Linked DNA regions of Homo sapiens: region 2 is linked to region 1. The links come from fine-mapping of genetic effects on gene expression. Tissue or cell type: whole blood. Region 1 holds a variant in brackets; the other region holds the start of a gene. All regions are shown on one strand. Distances are between the middles of the regions.

The links. PIP is the estimated chance that this variant, and not a neighbour inherited with it, causes the effect.
Region 2: it holds the start of RAB18, and the variant in region 1 is fine-mapped to the expression of RAB18 in whole blood (INTERVAL, PIP 0.98).

What each region holds. Positions count from the first base shown.
Region 1 is chr10:27,402,998-27,405,755 of GRCh38, reverse strand. It overlaps PTCHD3 (patched domain containing 3 (gene/pseudogene)), which reads left to right. Exons shown (of 4, transcript NM_001034842.5): 3 at 2,399-2,544. Among named protein-coding and RNA genes, the nearest start is that of PTCHD3, 10 kb to the left of the region's middle. The variant A/GAAA (reference allele first, on the strand shown) is at 1,270.
Region 2 is chr10:27,502,884-27,505,511 of GRCh38, reverse strand. It overlaps RAB18 (RAB18, member RAS oncogene family), which reads right to left and starts at 1,208. Exons shown (of 7, transcript NM_021252.5): 1 at 1,075-1,208. The coding sequence starts at 1,142. LOC124902399 (a long non-coding RNA gene) reads right to left here and starts at 1,067. Exons shown (of 2, transcript XR_007062097.1): 1 at 788-1,067; 2 at 420-533. RefSeq lists enhancers at 1,073-1,132, 1,243-1,512.

The DNA.
Region 1 (2,758 bases):
ACTGATCCTTCTGCAAGTATTGGTTTGTTTGGTGTTTTTTCTTTTTTGAGATGGAGTCTCACTCTGTCACCCAGCCTGGAGTGCAATGGCGCAATCTCGGCTCACTGAAACCTCTGCCTCCCAGGTTCAAGCGATTCTCCTGCCTCAGCCTCCTGAGTAGCTGGGATTACAGGCATGCACCACCACACCTGGCTTATTTTTGTATTTTTAGTAGAGGCGGGGTTTCACCATGTTGGACAGGCTGGTCTCGAACTCCCGACCTCAGGTGATCCGCCCACCTCAGTCTTCCAAAGTGCTGGGATTACAGGCGTGAGCCACCGCACCCGGCTGCCTGCAAGTGCTTTTGTAAGTTCCCTGGACACTTCTCGCTCCCTCTCTTTCCTTATCACAGAGGGTCTCATGTCCGTTCTGGGTGGAGCTTCCTAGACAGTTCTAGGACATATCCCCATTTTGCCTGTCTCACACACTCTCATATATGAAGGTTATACCTTGCATACCTGCCTTTAGCTCATTTAAGACACTTACTGAAACATATTTCAGGGTTCTATATTTATTGTCTTGCAATGAAGTCATTTAAATAAGACTTTTTCAAAAGTCTGTGCTCTAAATTGAACTCAATTATAGCTCATGCTATTTTATGTATAGTAATCCCCTGCTTTTCCACAGGAATACTATCCAAGACATACAACGGATGCCTGAAACCACAGATAGTCCTGAACTTTATTTATATCTAGCCAAAGTCTCTATAATCAATACTATACTTCACTCCCCTATCCTCTGAAAAATTCACACCTAAGAAATCCAGAAACTCAAAAGGAGGAATGGGCATAACCTTGTCATATATACCTTTTATCCTTTTATCCAAAATCTTTCTGATTTTGAAATTCATCTCTTTTACTTTCTTATCTTAAACTCCTATAAACCAATATTGTTGTTTTAAGAACGTATTATATTAGGCCGGGCACAGTGGCTCATGCCTGTAATCCCAGCACTTTGGGAGGCCGAGGCAGGCGGATCACCGGAGTTCAAGACCAGTCTGGCCAACATGGTGAGACCCCATCTCTACTAAAAATACAAAATTAGCCAGGTGTGGTGGCACATGCCTGTAATTCCAGCTACTCAGGTGGCTGAGGCAGGAGAATCACTTGAACCCGGGAGGCAGAGGTGGCAGTGAGCTAAGATTGCACCATTGCACTCCAGGCTGGGTGACAGAGTGAGACTCCAGCCTGGGCAAAAAAAGCAAAAGTCTGTCTCAAAAAAAAAAAAAAA[A/GAAA]GAAAGAAAGAAAGAAAGAAAGAAAGAATTATAGTAAGAGATTTTATTATAACAAAGCAATTTACTTTTGCCCTGGAATTTATATGTGTATGTGTGTTGAGTTGGGGCCCCGACCTTAATTCATAGTACCAGGTTAAGAAAAAGTGAAATACAATAACAGTATAGACATTTTATTAAGAAGAAGAATTTTATCTATTTAAATGTGATCTCCCCTGCAGGTCTTCAGTCATGTTCCTGCTGTTTTGAAACCAGTGGCTCCAGTTCTTCAGCTCCTAGACTAAAATTCCAAACTTAGTTTCTCTCCCCTACTAAAATATCTGAATGCAGGTATCAGTCATTTGTTTTGAAGCAATTTCTAACAAGCAAAATCTAAAACCAGAGGTTGTTGCCAATCTTTTAAAAGGTAATGTTATGGTTGCTGAGGAGGTAAAGCACTGAATCATGCTTTAAAATATTTTGTATATAGTCCTGTTTCTGTTGGTTTGCCAAGGAAACAGGCACAGTTTGGGTCATTTAAAATATAGCACATTTTAATTTTTTCCAAATTCGTAGCAACTTTTCCACAGAGCCCACTTCACCAGTAGAGAAGAATCCTGAAAGTAACTTAAAAGACTTTCCTACTTTATGTTAACAACAATACACATTGTACTAACTTTGAAATACAGGAGGCATTTAATGTTGTGTTATGGCTAGTTAGAGACCAGGGATGGATAAAAAGATAATTGGATCTATGTTCTTTCTCTAGTACAGCTTGCTCTTCATTATCTGTTATATTCCATTCACACCCTTCTGAAGATCAGAGTGGAATTAGCCATTAGCAGTGTTTTAGTAATTCTTTGTGGTTCCAAAATGCTAGTCAGTGACTTAGTGCTTGGCTGGCTGCAAAGAATCACATATAGCAGAGTCGGTAGAAGTACAGATTTACAGATTTCTAACTTTTCTGCTCCCTTTCTTTCCTTTTTTTTTTTTCAGTTGTTCTGAGATAGTCCCTGGGAATTAAAGGTCTCCAGCAGATATGTGTGGAAATTACTGTCTTAGAGATTTATGACTAGGTGTCCAAGTCAAGAATGTTATCCATTGATGAAAGCTACCACCACAAATTCCATGATTTTTCCCTCCAAATTTACAGGTTTGACTGCATACGAAACAAAATGTGTGTTGCGGCCTTTGGAGTGATTTCTGCTTTCTTGGCAGTGGTGAGCGGCTTTGGCCTGCTGTTGCACATTGGGGTGCCATTTGTCATCATAGTTGCCAATTCACCATTTCTTATTCTAGGTGAGTAAAACAAAACGGGAGGCTGCACACCGTGTATGTGGTGGGGTAGGGGATATATATAAGGGAAAGAATTGTATTAAGGTGGCTCTACAGTTCAAAAATGAGGTGCCAGGAAACAGGGAAATGAAATTGAACTGGATATCTCTAGAGGTGGAAAGATCGAGTATCCTAATGGAAAAACAGACCATGTACGTGAACAGCAGTTCACATGTAA
Region 2 (2,628 bases), 100 kb before region 1:
AGCTTTTAAAAAGTAAGACTTTATGAAGTGACTTTTACAAGTTATTTGAGGAGAGCTTTCATTCTAGTTTGTAGAATTAAGGCTATTTCAATTTATGAAATACAAAAAATTATTTGAAAGATACGTGTATCAGAAGGTATAGCTAAAATATGAAACTGATTACAGCCCCTGGAGTGCAAATGTGGTTTAAGGATCAGGACGGCCTTGAACATAACCTACTCATAATCAGATGGCAAGAATGACATCAGCTGGAGAACTCTCTTCCAAGACCTGGATGAAATCACAGCCCTCTAGCAACATCCACCTAGATCCATGTCTTACCTTATACTCAACTCCACTGTCAATATTATTTTCCCCAAGGAAAAAGTAAAAAATGAAAGCACAACACTAATCTTCTGTCTCCACAGGATGTGGCAAAATGAGAAATAACAATTACATTTTATTTTCAAAGGTGGCCCACGGCTGAAGCACTCGGACCTTACACTAAAGCGAAATTTTCCAGCAGTCACAAGATCCAGTTCTTTCACAGCCGACTAATAAAAAAGTAAAAGAATCGACATTAAGCTGCGCCCAAACAGGCCAGGAATGGGACCTAAGGCGTCACGAAACTTCCCGAGGACATTATGTATTTAGAGAAGGCCCCACAGAAACCCTCAAGTGGGAAAGCTATGTCTCCCGGGTCTCGGGGTGGCAGGCAGCCTGAACCCCGAGAGGTTCGAGGCAAGGCGCCCCCGGCCGGATTCGGGCCCAAACCAGCCCGCCACGCCCTGAGCTCCGCGCAGCAAACCTGCCGGCCGAGCGGCGGCCCTCGGAATGGTGTTTTCTCGGCGCTACAGGAGGGAGAGCGACCCAGAGAACTTGGGCCTGGCAAAGGCCGGGAACCAGGCAGGCGCGGGTGGGGAGAGGAAAGCAAACGTCGCGGGAGAGCGCGGCCCAGAGGCCGAGGAGGGCGCGAGCGGAGCCGGCCCGAGCCCGCCGCTGCAGTTTACAGTTCCCGTCGCGGCCCAGGAGACAGCAGCCACCGGGGCAGAAAGAGCCCAGCCACCCTCGTCACGACCCGCACCTCCGCCTCACCTGGACTTGCCCACCCCACTCTCGCCGATGATGAGGATCTTCAGGGTGGTTAGCACGTCCTCGTCCATCCTGACCCCGTTCCGCTCCGAGCCCAGCTGGCCGCCCGGGTGCGCCTCTCAGCCCTTCAGCAGAGTGAGCTGCTGCGCATGCGCGCCGCTCCACGTCTGCCACCTTCCTTTCACACCGGGTGTTCAGGCTGCCGAAGCCCTGGACTCCCCAGTTCCGCCTTGAGGTAGCTCCACGGCTGCGCGACCCAGAATCCCCGGCGTTTTTCCGGACTGCGTGTTCCTCCCCTGCGCAAGCGCAGGTGGGGAGCGCTGTGTGTGACTTTGTTGGCTTCTTCTTGAGGTCTAGCTCCGCCCCAGCCTCAACCTAACCCTCCTTTTGAGTCAGTGGGAGGACTCAGTCAGGAGAATATCAAGCTGTTTTATTTCGGCAGCTGCTCATAACAGCTGCACTGCGGTGGGAAAAGCACTGTGCTTGAAGCAGATTATCTTAAATTTAGGTCCAGCTCTACCTTATAACTGCCTTGTCATACTACCCAGCTTTCTTAGCCTTTCTCCATCTCTGAGAGACACAGTAACACTTCTTAGAACATCTGCTTCTTATTGTTATGAAGGTTAAGTGAGTTAATTTGTGAAGACATGTTGTTAACCAAAGTGCTCTATAAAAGGTGTGATCAGGTATTATCTTGCTGGCTTCCCCTCTGTTATAGTGGAGAGCACCCTCTGCACCCTAATTCATCTTGAAAGGGAGGCGTAGACTTCAGGTAGGTCAGGTGCATTACTTCTGGCGGTGCAACTTCAAGTCAACTCTCCTTCCTCATAAGAACTGCTACACCCATACTGCAGGAAGTGTATGTCTACACCTTGCCTCCTGCATTAAGTTGTAAATCTTAGTGAAGGTACCAAACCTCATTCATAATACTTAGCACAGTGCCTGGTACATGGCAGGCACTCAATAAACCTCAGTTCTCTTGTCTTATTTCCTTATACCTGCAGCTAATGTCATATACAATGGATATTTGATTAAAGACTACATATAAATAAAATTTCAAATGTTAAGAAATTAATTTGTTAAATAGCTGGAAAAGCCCTTTCAAAAGATATCCCAATGGCTTCTCCTCCTTCAGGTCTTCGCTCAAATGTTGCATTCTTAAAGAGGCCTTCCCTGTCCATTCTACTGAAATATGCAAATCCCTCCAGCATTCTCTAGACCTCTTTACATTGTTTTTCTGCATAGGATTTAACCACTCTCTGATACACTATATATTTTACTACTTTATTAGAAGTCTCATGAAGGCAAGGATATTTTGTTTTGTCTACTGGTATGTCTTCAGTATCTAGAGTACTTCATGGCACATAATATGTGCTAAATAAATGTATGCTGAATGAATTAATTGAATGAATGTTGTAGAGTCCATTCCTAACCTTAGAGAATAATGTCAATGAAACAACCTCCACTTCTCATCAGATAGCCCTTGAAACTTCAGTCAAGTCTATCTAGCTTACTTTTCATTATGACAAAAAGATCTTATTTATGAGGTTCACAGTA